Homo sapiens: one gene and its partners. The protein of the gene in region 3 purifies or fractionates together with the protein of the main gene of each other region. This does not show direct contact. Each region holds a gene or a part of one and is shown on either strand. Other genes may lie near its edges. The genes, in order: POMP, MELK, PSMG4 and PSMA2.

Evidence for each region.
Region 1: the proteins of PSMG4 (region 3) and POMP purify together in Homo sapiens (affinity purification with mass spectrometry; 2 studies listed by BioGRID and IntAct, with this or other methods). This does not show direct contact.
Region 2: the proteins of PSMG4 (region 3) and MELK purify together in Homo sapiens (affinity purification with mass spectrometry; one large-scale study listed by BioGRID and IntAct). This does not show direct contact.
Region 4: the proteins of PSMG4 (region 3) and PSMA2 purify together in Homo sapiens (affinity purification with mass spectrometry; 2 studies listed by BioGRID and IntAct, with this or other methods). This does not show direct contact.

The regions. Positions count from the first base shown.
Region 1 is NC_000013.11:28,668,648-28,673,490, reverse strand, and holds part of POMP (proteasome maturation protein), read right to left. Parts: intron 1,153-4,843; coding exon 1,059-1,152; intron 1-1,058. UniProt on the Homo sapiens protein: Molecular chaperone essential for the assembly of standard proteasomes and immunoproteasomes. Degraded after completion of proteasome maturation. Mediates the association of 20S preproteasome with the endoplasmic reticulum.
Region 2 is NC_000009.12:36,669,894-36,674,736, reverse strand, and holds part of MELK (maternal embryonic leucine zipper kinase), read right to left. Parts: intron 3,740-4,843; coding exon 3,571-3,739; intron 1-3,570. UniProt on the Homo sapiens protein: Serine/threonine-protein kinase involved in various processes such as cell cycle regulation, self-renewal of stem cells, apoptosis and splicing regulation. Has a broad substrate specificity; phosphorylates BCL2L14, CDC25B, MAP3K5/ASK1 and ZNF622.
Region 3 is NC_000006.12:3,261,068-3,265,711, reverse strand, and holds part of PSMG4 (proteasome assembly chaperone 4), read right to left. Parts: intron 2,029-4,644; coding exon 1,953-2,028; coding exon of another isoform or gene 1,888-1,952; exon of another isoform or gene 1,539-1,887; coding exon of another isoform or gene 1,387-1,538; exon of another isoform or gene 1-1,386. UniProt on the Homo sapiens protein: Chaperone protein which promotes assembly of the 20S proteasome.
Region 4 is NC_000007.14:42,924,332-42,929,174, forward strand, and holds part of PSMA2 (proteasome subunit alpha type-2), read right to left. Parts: intron 3,129-4,843; coding exon 3,052-3,128; intron 2,338-3,051; coding exon 2,205-2,337; intron 467-2,204; coding exon 344-466; intron 1-343. UniProt on the Homo sapiens protein: Component of the 20S core proteasome complex involved in the proteolytic degradation of most intracellular proteins. This complex plays numerous essential roles within the cell by associating with different regulatory particles.

The DNA of each region.
Region 1 (4,843 bases), on a different chromosome or scaffold from region 3:
TGGACAGGATTGTATTTGTTTATCTTCCTCAGGACCAGAAAAAATAGAGGATGCTGCATATATTGTTCTTACTTAAATTCATTTACAATTATTCAGGGAATTTTATTAAAAATAACAGATTCGGCCGGGTGCAGTGGCTCACGCCTCTAATCCCAGCACTTTGGGAGGCCGAGGCGGGCAGATCACAAGGTCAGGAGTTCGAGACCAGCCTGGCCAACATGGTAAAACCCCGTCTCTACTAAAAATACAAAAATTAGCCGGGTGTGGTGATGGGTGCCTGTAATCCCAGCTACTTGGGAGGCTGAGGCAGGAGAATTGCTTGAACTCAGGAGGCGGAAGTTGCAGTGAGCTGAGATTGCGCCACTGCACTCCAGCCCGGGTAACAGCACAAGACTCCATCTTGAAAAAAAAAAAAAAAAAGACAGATTCCTCTTTCCTATTTATCACCTGTAGAAGTACAAAAATTACTTTTTTGGGGAGCTACTTTTTAAAGAAAGATTTATTTTCCAGTTGTTTAAAATGCTAGTCAAAAAACCCCAAAATCAAACTAAACACACAAAAACAACACCAGTCACATCCCAACAATGTGAATTCTGAAATAATTATCATTGTTTAAGTCACCCTAGGAATATCAGACTGACATATTACACTTGAAGCTCAGGACATGAAGTGAATAACCACCATTACTAGACTGAAATGACTATGTACTCTTAGAATTTCATAAATAATTTTCACTTTTTTTCTTTTTATATTTTTAGTAGAGACAGGGTTTCACCATGTTGGCCAGGCTTGTCTCAAACACCTGACCTGAGGTGATCTGCCCACCCCGGCCTCCCAAAGTGCTGGGATTACACGTGAGCCACCGCACCCAGCCAATCTTCACTTTTAAAAACAGTTAAAGAACAGTTACTACCATTAAACTTTATCTTAATGCAATGAATAAAGTGAACCCAATCAGCTGTAAGTTCCATGAGGACAAGAATTTTGCCTATTCTTTTTGCAGCTGTTTGCCTTTTAAATTACAAGGGCTCCATAAAAAGGTGCTGAATGACACTTACCATTAAGAATATCCTCAAATCCAATAGTCTCATCATTACCCCTCAAAACATCCAGTGAAAGATTTGAGCTTGAAAGAAATGGAAGACGCTGAACCTTTGGGGAAAAGTATGAAGGGACAAGATTAGAAAAAACTCAGGGGAAAATGACAGAATATATAGTCTAATTTCATGTTCTTTATTCTTTGTTTGAAAATTCGCAAAACCAAATACAAGATCAATTTAACAAGTGGAAAAAAACACTAGTTCATATTTTAGACACAAACTAAGTTGTAAAGACACTGAAATTATACTTTTCATTAACAATAATCCTACCTGGTGTGCATGTATTTTGAGGCTTTGCTTCTGCTCAGGAAAACTACGGCATATACCATGTAATGAAATGCAAAATCCCAGAGCTTAACATCACGCCTCATTCCTGATACATGTAGGATGATCAAATTCCTGAAGAAAGTCCAACTCAATAGGTTGCTTAGGCTGGTCTCAAACTCCTGGGCTCTAGTGATCCTCCCACTAAAACTGGGATTACAGGTCCATGTCACCAAGCCCAGCTAATGCAGATAATTTTTGATATTCCCACAGACTACCAAAATAGGTGGTCTTTGACTAAATGATAGTAGTATTTTAAAGATAATCACACCGTTAGAATCTAAGAGGGCAGTTTCTCACATTCCCCCCACCCCCAACAAAATGTATCCAGACTAAATATATTATTTTCAATTACTAATGTTCCATAGAGATATTTAAAATCTTTATAGTGTGGAAAAATTTCTCTAGATTGTCAAACCTAAAAAAAAAAAGGAAGTGGGAGGAAGAGGAAGAAACAAAAATAGGAACCTGTAAATTAAACCAGACAGCAAGGGGTCTGGTAGTTAGATCAGAGTACAGTCCTAAGAATGCATCAAAAGCAGGGAGGAGCAGGCAGCTGTTATACATCTTGACAACCCAAAACTGCAAAAGTATAGAGATAAGAAAAAAAAAAAAAAGACAGAGAATTCTGGGCAAAGATATTTGGATCAAATAGTATTAAAAACTTAAATCCAGAATTTGAGCAATCTGTAGTTGAAATCTGAGTAAGAGGAAAATAAAAAGGGAAGCTAACAATTTTGTGCCAAACATGTGATTTCATTTAATCTTCAGAATAATCCTATGCTACTCTTACTGTTCTCCTTATTTCACATTAAATTAAAAAATCTAAGGTTCAGAAAGCTCTCCAGCTTACTCAAGTTCTTAAGACTAGTAGATGGCTAAGCCAAGATTCAACCCTAGGTTACTCAAAACCATGTTTTTTAAGAGCTTTATCTTTGGAAAACGAGTAGCTTCCAGAATGACTTAGCCAAATACAATTGATAGTATTAGTAGAATTTATCTTATTATTATTTTTTTTGGAGATGGAGTTTTGCTCTTGTCGCCCAGGCTGGAGTGCAATGGTGTGATTTTGGCTCACTGCAACCTCTGTCTCCTGGGTTCAGGCAATTCTCCTGCCTCAGCCTCCCGAGTAGCTGGGATTACAGGCACATGCCACCAGGCCTGGCTAATTTTTGTATTTTTAGTAGAGACGGGGTTTCACCATGTTGGCCAGGCTAGTCTCGAACTCCTGACCTCAGGTGATCCATCTGCCTCGGCCTCCCAAAGTGCTGGGATTACAGGCATGAGCCACCCAGCTCGGCCAATAGAAATTTATTGAAAAAGACAATTTAGCTAGGTCAGAGAAAGGAATCTGCACCAGTAGGAGAAATGTGTGCAAACGCCTAACAGTGAAAGAACTTAATGAATTAGGAAACTGCAAGTAGTTTAAGAGGATAAGAAGTGTGGTGGGAAGCAAGGAGCCAATTCATGGACAGAGCCACACTAAGTGTTGGGTTTTATTTTTATTTAGAGGGTAAAGTGAGGGGAATGACATAATCAAATCTGTGTTTTACAAAGATTATTCTGATTAGAGTCTTAACAAGGATTGGAGGGGCAGCAGGGATGAGTGTTGCAGTAATCCAGATGAAGTCTGACAGGGGCAAGGACCAGCATAGTAGCAATGGTGGGGAGAGCAAGTAATAAACTGAATGATTTGGGGGAGCAGGGGAAGAGGTTAGGATGGGTGCTAGGTGACATAACCAAGGCTAATTATCCAATTTCTGCCTTAGGCAGAAACCTATTCATATGGGATAAGGAGTATGTGGGGGATTATGGGATTATGAGTTATTCTGTACTTGTCCATGTAAAACTGGAGGTGCCTGTGGGACTTCCAATTGGGCTTTCCAATTGGAAAAGCCTATAGGTTTATAGCTCATGAGAATTGTAACTTGGGGGTCATCAACATATTTTATTTTTTGAGACGGAGTCTCATTCTGTCACCTAGGCTGGAGTGTAGTGGCACGATCTCGGCTCACTGCAACCTCCGACTCCCAGGCTCAAATGATCCTCCCACCTCAGCCTCCTGAGTAGCTGGGACTATAGGTGTGCACCACCACGGCTGGCACATTTGTTGTATTTTTTTTTGTAGAGATGGGGTTTTGCCATGTTGCCCAGGCTGGTCTTGAACACCTGAGCTTGAGTGATCCACCCACCTTGGCCTCCCAAAGTGCTGGGATTACAGGTGTGAGGCACCACGCCCAGTTGGAATCATCAACATATAATTGATAACTAAAGCAACAAGTAGGAAATAGGGTCAGGAAAGGACTAGAGATGGGGCACTAACAAAACTGGCATTTTAGGAAACAGGCAAAACAAATGGAACCTACACAGAGACACCTGAGAACAAGGATTCAGAAAGGAGGACATCAGGAAAGTGTGGTGTTCTAAAAGCCAAGGAGGTGGGATGATAGCTTGAGGCCAGGAGTTTAGGACCAGCCTAGGCAACATAGCAAGAGCCCGTTTCTACAAATCATAATTTTTAAAACTAGCCAGGCGAGGTAGCAAGTGACTGTAGTCCCTGCTACTCAGGAGAGTGAGGCAAGAGGATTGCTTGAGCCCAGGAGTTTGAGGATGCAGTGAGCTATGATCATACCACTGCACTCCAGCCTGGATGACAGAATGAGATCCTGTATCAAAAAAATAAATACAAAGTAAAAACATAAAAGCCAAGGGAAAAAGGAAGAAGCCATTATTAGTGTCAAATACTACAGGGAGATGAAGTAAAGTGAAGGTAAAAATGTCCACATTGTTCAGGAGCAGTTTCATTGGTGTCATGGGAGACAGAAACAGTGGGTTAAATAAATAGCAGGGAAAGGAGTATAGAAAGCAAATGTAGACAACTTTTCAAGAAGCAAAAGCACACTCAATGAGAGACAAGTTACTATAAAGGAATTTGAAATTGATACAATTTTTTTTTGTTTTAAAAGACAACAGCGGTTCAAATGCTACTGCTGAGACAGAGCAAGCAGAGAGGGGTTAAAGATATCAGCTTGAGAAGGCATCATTGATAAAGGGATTTTCCTGAAGTAATGTAACAGGATAGAATCCAAAGCACAGGTAGGAGGGTGGTTCTTACATAATTGGAAGGACATTTTCCAAGTACTTATTCCTTAGAAACAGGTATATTCAACTATATACAAATTGTATACTTGACACCTCCACTTGGATATTCTTAGAGGGATCTCAAATTCAATGTAATACATAAAAAAAAAACCCAGAAAAACATGAAAGCAGATGCAGGTAAGTTTTCAGACACTGAGCCTGTAATTTGAAGTTTTCCATTTAATGACTTCTTTTTTCCCTCTATGAAGTAGAAATCAAGGTCATACCCTAAAAAGGGGGAGGGAAGTAGAATAGGTTGTAAGGTAGATAAGGTATAA
Region 2 (4,843 bases), on a different chromosome or scaffold from region 3:
TGTTTCAAATGGAACTATTTCCTAAAAAATATCAAAGGAATTTACAGTCAACTCTTAGTGAGTTAATGGCCCACTGGGAGAGCTTGGAGAAGTTATGGTTATTAGTAAACACACCCATAGCTTCCTTTTCATACTTTCATCTTCCTCTCCTACCAATCCTTTTAAAGAAATAAATATTAAAGAGCACCCATCTAACTGTTTGAGCTTTGCCTATTTTCCCCTTCCCACACTATTTTAAGAGACATTAACAGTCCTGAAATGTATACCACGGAAAGATAAACAAACACCATACAAAGTTTGCTTTGTACCTAGTTGGATATGTTTCCTTAACTCTTTCTGGATTATTTAAAGAATATTATAGAGTTCCAGGAGCTGATTTTATGACAGTTCTATGAGGAAATAAATGTAACAGGTATTCCTTTAAAAAAGTGATGTCATATTATTTTTTCTCATTGACTGAGAGCCTAATTCTCAGAGATAATTTCATTCCTAATTGATATTTATCCTTCATTCATTCAACAACTACTTTTGAATGTTTACTATGTGGTAGGCACTGTTTTAGTGGGTCCTGGACACACAAAAATCCCTCCCTTCCTGGTAAGTACCTTCACTGTCAAACAAAACCATAGTTTCTATATCTTTCAGGTTTGAGTTCATTGTATAAATAACAAAATGCCTAGGAAGAAAAGTATCCAACTATCTTACTTTTCAAAATAAGAACCTATGGCCCAAAGAAGAGATACAAATTTCTTAAGGTAGTGCTTCTCATAGTGTGATACAAGATAGACAAGGTAATTCTGGGTGGCACATGGATAAATATTTTTAAATATGTATTTGTTCCCAACTGATTTCGAAAACATAATTAACAACAACAACAAAAAAACCCTAATGATATAAAGGTTTCCTTTTAAATAAATTTGAGTTTTAAAAAATTATCTTGATTGTGGCAATGGTTTCACAGATGTTATATATAATGCCAAAGCATATTAATTGTACTTTAAAATATGCACAGTTGGCCGGGTGTAGTGGCTCATGACTGTAATCCCAGCACTTTGGGAAGCCAAGGCAGGAGGATTACTTGGGCTCAGGAGTTCAAGACCAGCCTGGGTAACATAGTGAGACCCTGTCTCTGCAAAAAAAATTAAGAATTAGCCAAGTGTGGTAGCACGCATCCCAGCTACTCAGGAAGCTGAGGCAGGAGGATGACTTGAGCCCAGAAGGTTGAGGCTGCAGTGAGCTATGATCATGCCATTGCACCACAGCCTGGGCAGCAGAGCAAGACTCTGCCTCAAAAAATTAACAACAAATAAAATAAAATAAAATATGTGCAAGTTTATTATATGTCAGTTATATCTCTATAAATCCATTTGTTAAAGGAGAGTCAACATAATGAAAATACCAGATAAATAATAGTGCACCCAATACACCCATAGAGCAAATGTCGTGAAACTGAGTGTTAACGAAGGGACCCTCTCTTTCTTGGTTCCTGATCCAGCACTCTTTTCACCAAACTAAATTGGCTCTGTTAAGATGATATTAATAATAAACTGAACACCTTCAAATCACAATATATTACTGCTTTGGTAAAATAAAGAATGAATCCTAATTTATCTACTTAAATTTTGGATTTTTTATAGACTGCTTCCTAAAAGAGGACATAACTACATATGATTTGCTATCTTAAAAAACTAAGGTATTATTTCTACTATCCTTGCAACTCTTCCGGTAAGTGTATAGTTTTTAGTACAGTATTTGAAGTAGGTGAAAAAAAATAAGGTTAATTTCCCAAAGAAAGTCCTTCAGTTTTGCAAAAACTTAAAAGCATTAAAAAGTGTTAATGATCTAAAGTTAAAGTTTTCAATCTTAGGACTGTGCTAATTAGGACCATGGGTCTATACATGGGTGGTAAAATGCTCAACACTGATAGTAATCCTTGACATTGGAAACATGTCACCTTATACTCATAAAGCATTTAATATGCCATGTAGCATCCCATATGTAGAGTCTTGTTTCTACATCTCAGCCGTGTGAGGTTGCCAGGGTAGGCATTATTTCCAGATTTTACAAATGAAGACACTGAGGAGATCAGGAATAAAATGATTTATCAAAGCTATACAGCACAAAGCTGGAGCCAGAACCCAGGTCTTCTCATTCCCAATCCTGTGGTTTTTCTCCTACATTCTGGAAGTACTGGAGAACTACCTAGAAAGCCAACTAACACCACAGTAGTTTCTATTGAAAAATGCATTCAGGTTCCAAAATATTTACATAACTGACCATTTTTAGAACATTATCCGTTAGTATTTGGTAACTGCTTAGCTTCTCAATAATGTGTATATATGTGGTTGAACTAGTTTCCTTAATTTTATTTAACATTTTTCAGTGCAATGGTACTATGGTTTTTTTAAATCTCAGTGTCGGTGCTTGAAATACTTAACTATCTCCAACCAGAGAAATTTCAGAACAAAAGGATAAAATATGCCTAATACACAGCCATATGTAACGTCTCAGCACACTACAAAAGTTCAAGGTAATGACTGCTAGTGGATAACTCCTATCTTCTTCCACTTTAAGACAGAACAGAAATGAGATCACAGAACATTCTCCTCTAAAACACCCTTCTGCCCAAAAGCTCAGCATTTTCCTTCCCTCAAACCGCCCAGATTTGCTCATTACGAGAGTCTCAGTGCAAAAACTAAACATAGACCCAGTCCCCAAATGATGGGCACACTACCATCTTCTCCCCTGCTTGGGCCCACACCTCTTGGAATGTGTTTTTACTATAGCACTGAGCCCAGTGTTTCAGAACAACATCCCAGCCTGTTTTCACAGCCAGCCTAAGAGTTCCTCAAGGAATGGGCTGTCTCATTCGTCCCTTTACCTCTTAATTACTCCCCTTCCACCAAACAAACATGTATTCATCAGATGTTTGAATGAATGCTCAGAGAGAATCCAAGAGAATAAAAAGTACTTTATATCAACTAACAGCTTATTTTTCCTTTCCTTCCTTGACTAAATATATTGTCCACACCAGTGACACATTAACCCTTTTAAAGCATACTGGGTCTATTAAATAAGATCCACACCTTCTTAGCCAGGCCTTGAGGCCCTTCCGGCCTACCTTCCCCGCTTGTCACTCACTATTTTCCTGACACACACCACACTCAAAGTTCCAATTATCTTCCCATGCATTCAAATATTTCATGAGGGCCTACAAAGTATCCATGAATCAGGGACACAACTGAGCTCAAGTCCCCCTCCTTAAGGCAGCTCTCAGCTCTCCATCTGTGCCCCCTGCTTCCTCACCTCCATGTTGCCCCTGTGACTAATCCCTCCACCTGTTCTTGAATATTTGAATGATAGCTGTTTGCTCCTTGAAGGGAGTGACTGTATCTATTTACTGACTGCACAGTAACATGCAGATTTTAGTTGCTCAAAAAACATATATTAACTAAGTGAATAAATACTCAAATAAAAAACACTAATCAATTCATTCAGCACCTTAAAAAAAAAAGGCAGTCCATTAGCAGTCAGCTTCTGCTCCATATGAAAGAATTCCAGCCTGCTTACCTTTAGTCTTCTGGGCCCGTCTCTGGCAGAACCCTTCCTTTTGCTCCTGGTGAGCACAGTGATAACCTTATCCAACCCCCTTTCAAGGCTCCCAAACACTTTGGCTCCCTTTCTTTTTGGAGTCTCCTCCATATGTGCTTGGTTGAGATCCAATTCCACTGAGCGGCACCTGAAACAAAACATAAAACAAGGCACAAGTAGAGCTGGGCCTCCGGCCTGTGGGGTCCACAAGGGTGAACTTTTGTCCCTTCATACACATTAGGATGCCTCACTCAGGTATGCCAGGGCCAGATCACCTCTCTCTTCCTCAGGAAGCACCAAAGCCATCTCCCCCTGGACAGGAGCTGTCACACTTCTACCAGGCAACTGCCACTCAGCAAAACTATTTATCCCCTTCCTTTTTAAAAAAGGATATATATATCCTTTTTTCATATATATAGAAAAGTTCAAAGAAGAGTACAATGAACACCGGTATATCCTCCTAGATTCAACAATTGTTCATATTTTGCCACATTTGCTTTCTATTTGGATATAGATAATATATTAATGTACATATGTATATAGATATACACTGATATATATACATCAATGTATATATCTATATATACACATAAATTTAATGTATGTAGATAATACATTAAATTTACTTATTTGCTAAGCCATCTGAAAGTAACTCATCTGAACATATCATGACACTTTACTCTGAAACACTTCAGTATACATCTCCAATGAATAAGGATGTTGTCTTCCATAAAGACAACACCATAAAGTGTGCTGAGAAGTTTACGTTACATATGGCTGTTTATTAGGCATATTTTATCCTTTTGTTCTGAAATTTTTCTGGTTGGAGATAGTTAAGTATTTCAAGCACTGACACTGAGATTTAAAAAAACCATAGTACCATTGCACTGAAAAATGTTAAATAAAATTAAGGAAACTAGTTCAACCACATATATACACATTATTGAGAAGCTAAGCAGTTACCAAATACTAACGGATAATGTTCTAAAAATGGTCAGTTATGTAAATATTTTGGAACCTGAATGCATTTTTCAATAGAAACTACTGTGGTGTTAGTTGGCTTTCTAGGTAGTTCTCCAGCACTTCCAGACTGTGGGAGAAAAACCATAAGATTAGGAATGAGAAGACCTGGGTTCTGGCTCCAGCTTTGTACTATATAGCTTTGATAAATCATTTTATTCCTGATCTCCTCAGTTTCTTCATCAATAAATTAATAATAATTCCATAATATCATCTAATACCCTGTCCACAT
Region 3 (4,644 bases):
CTTTCCTAGCTGTGTTAGGCAGGCTGGGACCACTCATGTAGAGGGTGATCTAAAGGCAGGCAGTGTGGTAGGAAGCTGGGGCTCACCAAGGCTGCCTAGGAGGAGCCTGTAAGTCACACCCTGCCCTATATCCCAGGGGCAGGAACATCCCCCTTTACCCTAAGGGGGCCCCCCTGGTATTCCAACTGTTCTAACTGCAGAGACAGGATTTCTGAGGAACAACGCTGTGTCTGGAGGCACTGAGCCCCTCAGACCCAAGCTGTGCCCCTCCAGGGCCATAGGAGGTTGGGTCCCCTTGGCCACACCAACTCCTGCGATGCTTCCAGAGCTACTGAGAACCCCCCAGGCCTTCTCTTTCCCTACCTGCTTTCATCTCTCATATAAGATACTGATTCAGGACACCTCTCCCTTTTCATTATAGTGCATTTTCAACTTGAGGGCCCAGACCCAGGCTCAAGGCAACTGGCAAAGCATGGGACTTTGCTGGAAAACCTTCTTGGTCCGAGCTCTGCAGCACCATTCCCTTAAGAGACGCCGGAAGCCACGGCACACCCGTGACTTGTTGAGACAGTCGAGATACTGAGAACCCCTCTTTTTTGCATATAGATACTAGGCCTCCATCTCGCAAATATTCTGGAGACTAATTTACCTTATTGATATGAAAGTTATTCACGGCCTGCCAGACAAGCTCACACCACCTTCTCTATGGGAGTGTGTCCGCAACCCCACCCAGCTTTCCGTCTGTATAAATATGAATACCTTCCTGAGCCTTCTCCCACACGCAGTAACCTGTTCCATGTAAGTGTGCTACCCCTTACACAGTCACACACACAGAGTGACACAGACACAAAAGGCAGCTTTACTTTCATGTGGCTCAGAAAAAAAAAGATACAAACACAAAGAGGGAAGGGTGGCAAGTGGGAAATTGGGGCAAAAGCTAAGCAGGAATTCTATCTTCTTTGCAACTTTTCTGTAAATTTTAAATTTACTTCCTAGTTAAAAATTACCAAATTAACTTACAAGTCAGGTCCCCACCTCCAAGGGAGGGAAAAAGAATACTGCGAGTTCCTGAAATGCTGACCTGTGCCCTCCCTGACCTCTGTCCTATCCACATACTGTCATGGGCCTGCTGGTGACACTCCACCCTGCCCTGCCTTCCCCCTGGGCCAGGTGCCATGCTATTCGTGTGCATTTGCCTCAGTGTGACTGACACAGAGGTTCCTGCTTGTCAGGTACCAGGTCCTGTGCCTGAGACACAGAGAAGACTCCAGAGCAGAAGCAGCTGGGCCTACTGGAGAACGCCAGGCCTGGGCAGGAGACAGGCATCCTGTGCACACTGGCCACAGGCACTGGGGCTGGGGGTCGCAGAGCACATGGAAGCCTTACCTGGCCCACAGGAAGTGTGTTGGGGTGTGGGAAGAGTGGAGCATTCAGCCTCATGACCTTTGCTTAATCCCCACTCTACGCCACACTCACAGGCCAGGCCAGTCTTCCCTCCGAGCCCTGAACGGTATCACACTGAGTGAGGACAGTCCTTCCTGCACAGAGGTGACACCTGCTCCACCAGCTGCACTGACTCCTCCTAAGGCCCGGGAGGCTACCTTGAGCCACCACCCACAGGGGCTGTGGGCACTTCTCATGCTCTCCTCCCAGGAGGTGGTGATGCACTTACGGAAGGCAACTAAATCAGCTCATGGACTCAAGGACACACCCAAGGACGAGGTGGGAGTCCTTTGGGAACAGGCCAGCCCTGGGACGGTGGTGATGACAGGCGAGCATGGAATGTGCCCCTTAAATAAGACCCAACGTGCAAAGGTCTGTGCTTCCCAGCAGCAATGAGGTGATGGTTCTTAGCATAAAGATGCTTTACTTCCGAAGGGACTTGCTTCATGGTTCCATTAAAGAGTGGGCCCCACCTGGCTGGCCATGCAGCGCCAGCTGTGGGTACATACCTAGGCGCTGGGCAAGGCCAGTAGAGGTCGTGTCGGAAGTGTCTCCAAGGAGGGAGGTAGACACGGGGATGGAGTCCTAAAAGAAAAGCAAAGGGCACACTGCAGCTTCTCCACCCCCCGCAGGCCAGCCACACTTCTGGCTTCCGGGCTTCTGATTCTTCACGACGATGGCAGTGGCAGGTTCAGAGAGGACAGGCACAGGTGCCGAGGGAAAGAGGGGTGGCGTCCGTCAACAACCAAGTAGGTGGACCCCATGTCGCATATGAGGTCAGCGGAGTTGGGAAAGATGAAGCTGGAACCACAGTGCTACTAAGTTCTAGGACCAGTTTCACACGAAAGGCTCGTTTTAGTGTCTCAAACTCCAAAGCATGCTGAAGGGCAACACCACAACCAAAAGGGAAGCAAACAAGATCATTAAGGCTACAGCAAGAAGAAAGTGACTCACAGTCGGGGCACCTGTGCACTGGTGCCTCGTGCCCCACAGCAGCTGGCTCAGAGGCAGGATGCCTAATCTCCTCATCTCAGCCTGTGAGGGAGCATGCTGCTCCAGCCCCTGTGGGCTCCTCAGGGTCAGCGAGTGCCTTGTGACTTTGATACAAAGGGCACCAGCCACCAGCATCTAAATAGGGAAAATAACTTCTGAACATGCTTGGCCAACCTCATTTCAGACAAGAAGCAGTAAGGTGAAACAAGCAGTACAAATGATTCTCAGATCAACAAATGGGCCCTCCGGCGATGTGGGAGTAACTGCTCCCAACTACTTTGGGAGTAATCTCTCACCATTAACAATGTCTAGCTAGTCCCAGAATCCCAGCACTTTGGGAGCCTGTGGAGGGAGGACTGCTTGAGACCAGGAGTTTGAGACCAGCCTGGACAATGAAGTAAGATCTGTCTCTACATTTTTATTAAAAATAATAATAAAAAAATAAAGTAAGAAGGTCTAGCTTCCAAAGGGGGAAAAAAAAAACACTTATTGGTAATATGGCCAAAATTGCTTTTATCAAAATAGCAGATTTCTAGGAGAAGCAGCCTGGCTACAGAGGTCTGAGAATCTTGGAAAGTGGCAAGGTTTTTAGAGGTACAGAGACTTTGGGGTTTGGTTCCCCTGCCACCCCAACTGTCCTGGTGGGGACAAGTTAACTGAACAAACAGCTACTGTGTGCCAGACAGTATGGCAGGGCAGAGACCACAGGCGCTGCTCATCTCCTAAAGGTTCAAAGCCACTTCCACAAAAGACAATAAAAGGCAGGAGATCAAAAAACACAGGAGAAGAATGAAAGCATTTACTGTATGCTTCTTCACTAAAAACGATACAAAAATATCTTAATGAGCCTGCTGTTTACAGATTCCTCAAGTTCAACATTTAGCTGCATGGTAATAGTATGTACAGTTAAACCTTCTAGAAAAAAGAAAATCTACCTTACCCAGGGTGGCCTTTTTCTACCAAAAGTTAAATGTAAAGCCCCATCGTGTCACCCTTAATAGTTCATTACTTCCGACATCACACTAGGACTGTGGTCTCCCAGCAGATGCCCAGGGAGTTCTGCTGCAGCTGAAGCACCACCTTCCACTCCTAGAGGCCGGGCGGGGGGTCCAAGAATCCCTGAGCAGGCACGGGCCCAGGTCCCAGGCCAGCTTCCCTCAAGCTGGTAGGACTCAGTGTCACTAGTCCTGCAGCCTCTCTGGGCACCAAAAATCCCTGCTCAACCCAAGGTCAGCCAGCTCCGGGTTGCATGGTGTCTGTTCTCTACAGTCTCACATGTGGGAGTTTAGGGAAGCTGGAGGGAAGAGACCTCACAGACCGTCTGGTGCCATTCTCCACGTGTGGGCTGGCAAAATTCCTGAGAGGGACCAGATAGTAACTAGTTCAGGCTTTATGGATTACAAAGTCTCTATTACAACTGCTCAGCCCTGCCACCAAGGTACAAGAGCTCCACAGAGTCTACCTGCATGGACGGTAGATGGAGGGCTGGCCCACGGGTCACAGGTGGACAGTAGATGGAGGGCCGCCCCACGGGTCACAGGAACCTTGGGCTTCCTGCCTTAAGCTAATGCCTACACCTCTTTTCCCCAGCTGGCTCGGCTCTCTGCCCCTGGAGAGAACACCCAGGCACACTGCGGCCAGTGAGAGGGACTGGACTTCTGACAAGTCAGGTAACTCAATCAATCCCCTGTTCCTTTTCCTGCCTGGCTTTGCTGGAGGGGCACTTTCCAGATGAGAAAATATACCTCACTGGGAGCTGTGACCACCATGGGGTCGGGTGACCAAAACCACCCACAGGAGGAGCCTACTTCTTCCAAACTTACCAGCCCAAACCAGCACTGCACAAAGTGGCACAAGGCAGCGACACCAGATCTGACCAGTGCCCAAAGCCCTGCCCACTATGCCTTGGGATAAAGAGAGAATGCGAGGTGGCACAGAGCACACAGCCCCACCCATCACCCCTGGTCCCCCAGGCCTCTTCCGCTGCCGCCTGCTCAAAGGTCCACTGCCAGGACCCTCCAGGAAAGAAAAAAAGAAAAAAGGAAAAGGAAAAGAAAAGCAAGAAAGGAATCCAGATGCCATCTCCTTCCCAAGGCCTTCCCAGGTGCCGCTGTGCACAGCTAAGAGGCTCACCCATGACTTCCTGCCCCCAGCACCCTCAGTCATCACTGCCTCACTGGCTTCAGAAGGGTCTCGCTGAGGGGGCCT
Region 4 (4,843 bases), on a different chromosome or scaffold from region 3:
CGACAGAGTGAGACTCTGACTCAAAAAAAAAAAAAAAAAAAAAAAAAAGAAAAATTTAAAGTTGCAATGATTGTCTGTCCATAAAGTGTTTTAATCACTGGCAAAAGAACTTTGTATATCTAGAAGCTGCTTTCTGCTGTTACATAAGCAACAAGAAAACACATTTTTTTCCTTAAATAAATACTCCAGAGCCAGATAAGATCAGAAATATTCATCATAGTGATTCTGTCCACTTGTTAAGCAAATACAGAAATGGTAAGTCCCACTCTATTTATATACCTACTCTTTAAAATAACTTCCCCCTACAATTCATGGCACATTTCAAGTAAAAAAAGCAACTTACCCTGACTGAGTATATTCTTGCATCACAGAAGCTACTCTCTGTACCAGCTGAGCTGTAGGAATGGGTTCTTGGTACACAAGATAGTATTGTTGAGCTAGTTTTCGAGCTCTGTGCACAAGCACTCTAACAAGGAAAAAATAAGATTTAATTACACAGAACATGCTCTACTACCTGAAGACTCATTCTCCTTTTACAGGCATGTACCTGCAGCACAAGTTTAACATGTATCTCTTTAATGGTGGCTATTGGATCAAAGCTAGTCTTACTCTAACACTGGATTCCAGTTGATATAGAAGAAAATATCAGAGCATCAGAGTACCAGTTAGCTTAAAAGTAACAGATTTAATGTACAAAAATGAGAACTTTATCTTGCTCCACGGCTTCTTCAAGACTGTACCCCCATCCAAGGGCAGCCGCTTGTCTTTTTACAGCTCACCCCAGCCCACACACACAAGCACACATAAACACACAGGCACACAATTCTGGGCATATTTTTCTCACTTCAGGTCACTACTTTCTGCAGACTGTTTCAATCTCTCTGCCTGTGCTTCACGGAGTACCCTTCAGAGATTAAGAAACAGTAAGAAACTACTTGTAACTAAAAATGTAAAATTCGGCTAGGTGCAGTGTTTCACGCCTGTAATCCCAACACTTTAAAAGGCTGAGGCAGGAAGATCACTTGAGGCCAGGAGTTTCAGACCTGCCTGGGCAAGACCCTGGGTTACTTTAAAGAGAATAACTCAGATGTGAAAGAGGAGGGAGATAGAGTACATAACTCCTCTTTTCTCTGTTTAATGGACTTTCCTTTCTGACATATTCCTCTTCTACTATACAGGAACTGGGCATAAGGCTTTAGTTTTCTCCAGTGCAGTTTAAAATGATAAAAGCAATACCCAGCATGACCCTGTCTCTTAAAATTTTTTTTCAGAAGTAAAATTTGTCAAAAGAGATTAAGAAGATATTATATAACAATCAAATATATTAGCAAGACAAATAGGATTTATCTTTGCCAGCTCATATACTACTGATCTGAAATATGCACATTTTCCCTCTGTGTGACAGTCATGTCCCATCCCTCAGTTTATCCTATCAGTGGCAGCACAATGCAGTATCCAGCCTATATAGTGGTGACAAGATTCACTGCCTGATCACATTCCACTGACCTTGTTGCGTTGATTCACTGAAGTGAAACTTTGCCTCTACCTATCTTGCTCCACAAAATCATGAGCAATAAAGTAATACTCCTTTTACTTGTTTAAATGACAGACACAGAAAGCTGTCAATCTCTTTCAACTTGCTGGTACCCTGAGTAACAAGATTATTCTCTCTTCCTGTGAAATATAAAGGGGGTGATTACACAAGCATTGGGATCCTGGTTGGCTGCCACACTCAACAACTTGCAGTGGTGTTTGAGAATTTTGTTCCTTTGTGAAGAACAGGAAAAAAGATAACTCTGGATAGTGATACTTTCTTTTGTTGCCTCATACTTTTTAAAATATAGTTTATTATAACTTAAATTGCTTTTATCATTTTTAAACTGCACTGGCGAAAACTAAAGCCCTTACGCCCAGTTCCTGGATAGTAGAAGAGGAATATGTCAGAAGAGAAAGTCCGCTGAACAGAGAAAAGAGGAGTTATGTAATCTATCTACCTCCTCTTTCACATCTGAGTTATTCTCTTTAAAGTAACCTATACAGGCAAACTAAATTCAGCTCTCAACGAGGCTGCTATTGCTAAACAAAGCACACAAAAAAAGAGGAACTGGAAGATTAAAGGAAAACAACCTTGGTTTTTCTCCTGAAAATACAGATTACAATCAATTCATGAGATGGTGAGAAACACTATAAAAAGTATAAAGTACCTGTAATCGGGGCCCATGCCACTGTACACCAAACCTATATGCTTGGTAATTGGTTCTACTTTGTGTACACTTCGCTCATCATACAGAATGGATTTCTGTTTTTTCTCAGTTGCTAATACCACACCATTTGCAGCTTAAAAAAAAAGAGAGAGACATAAATGTTTAATCATTTTTAAGACTGTTTTAACAGCTTTCTAATTATGGATGCGCTAAACGCAAACTCCTTTATTTCCTTTAATTTATAAAACCTTTTCTTCCGGAGTCCTATTACCAAAATTACCTAAGAAATGGTAAGTCAGTTTTTCCCTCACTGGTCATTTAGTACTACACAAAAAAATCCTCCCTACAGCTAAAGGTATTACATAAACTTTTGTAAAGCACTCTAAGGATACCTGAGAGTTCACATGTTTTAAAATAAGGGATTTCTGTCTACTTGTCCCAATATTCTTATAACATGAAATTTACAATAAATGATACAGGCTTTTAAAGTGAAACACAACACATTTAGCTTATGTTTTATAATTAAGCTTTCCTAAATTATAAGGATAAAAACTGCCAGGAAGTAGTGATATAATCAGTGGAAAAACAAAAAAAGAACTCAGTTTTCTGAATGAGAAAGACTATTGTGAATATCACAACTAACAGATAAAGGTGTTACTATTTACTTTGAAAAGAAATTTGAATGACCTTAGACTTATTACTATTTAAACTCCAAAACACTGTAAATTAACAAAAAATTGTTAAAAATTATACTGCTGCAGCTCTGTATAAATTAATTACTAATGAATTCCAAAATAATTAGGATAACTACTAACAGGCATCTGAAATGAATGAAGCATTTCATTACCTTTAATTCCCACGGACGGGGCTCCTCCAGCTACAGCAGCCAAAGCATATTCAATCTGGACAAGTTTACCAGACGGGCTTAAAAGAAACACAGGTATTTGTAAGTTCACATATCATCAAATATTTATTGTAAGAACATCTCTGAGATAGTACAGACATACAGGTCAAATCCAATTTATCCAACTCCAGGGAGTAACTGGCCTTTGACCTCTATCATGAAGTGGCACAGAAACCAAGTTTACAGCTGGGCGCAATGACTCAAGTTTGTAATCCCAGCACTTTGGAAGGCCAAGACGGGTGGATCACCTGAGGTCAGGAGTTCGAGACCAGCCTGACTAACATGGTGAAACCCTGTCTCTACTAAATATACAAAAATTAGCCGGGTATGGTGGTGCATGCCTGTAATCCCAGCTACTTGGGAGGCTGAGGCAGGAGAATTGCTTGAATCCGGGAGGTGGAGGTTGCAGTAAGCCAAGATTGCACCATTGCACTCTAGCCTGGGCAACAAGGCCGAAACCTCGTCTCAAAAAAAAAAAGAGAAAGACAGAAAGAAAGAAACCAAGTTTACAAGGCAATTGGAACATACTCCTACTGAAGCACTACTTTCTCTTTGGTTGTTTTTTGTCTGCCACATGGAGCAGTGGTATTACTGTTGCTTCTTTTCACCCTAAGTTTTCTATGCCTGTTTTCTCACCTGTAAAATGAGGACACAGTAACCACAACTGGTTTTCCGTATCAGTGGATTCCACAGGGCTGACTACAGGACTTGAATACGCCCTCACTTGGTATTTGTGGGGGTACTGAAATCACCGTCCCCTACAAGTGTCCTGTACCTATTTCAAAGCATTGTTGTGATTAAGTGAAGTAATTCCTATAAAACTGTCTGGCATAAAATCAGTAACAAGCACATACTGAATAGTAATGTTATTAAGAACATGTATGTGTCTGTTAAAAACCAAACAGCAGCACATATTTCAGGTCGGAGGGTGGTTTTAGAAAACAGACATGGCCTAAGACAATAAGACCTAGATATCACTCACAATTAAGTATTCTCTATATAATATACAACTATTTCTAGAAGTCATGAGATGGTCACACTTAACAGATCTGGTTCCATGGATTTGGTAGCTAAACGCAAGTCTCAAACTGGCCTTTTAAAGTTATCCTTTATTTCAACCTAGTTGTTTAAATGGAATCATCATAAACCAACCTAATTTCATAGATAAAGTCTGAGTGAAAGTAATTTGTCCAAAGTGACACAGCTAGGTCCTTATCTCCCGTCTACTAATGAAAATATAAATTTCAGAAGGCCGTATTTTCTCTTCATATAATTACGAATATTCCCTTGGTCACTCAAATCTCAACTCCATCCCTCCTTGCTCCAAACACATAGACTACTCTCAGACTTCAAACGCCTCATTGACAAGCTAATCCCTCCATCTGAAATGCATTTCTCTATTGCCCTGTGAACTCCTTTCATTCAATCATGTCCTAAGGGAAGTTGCCCTGAACCCTCAAGATTAAGTTGAATACCTATTCACTGATGCCTGTGATGTCCTGCACTTCCTCTTTGTCTAAGATTCATCATATCTGAATTGTTATTTTTTTTTTTTAGTAACAGGGTCTTGCTATGCTGCCCAGGCTGGTCTCAAACACCTCGTCTCAAGCAATCCTCCTGCCTCGGTCTCTTTATTATTTTTACAATATTTGTCTTCCTCAATAAAGTAGCTATGTTCAGTCAGGATTCCAGCACATAACCTAATACCAGGAATCCACAATCATTTGGCTGACAG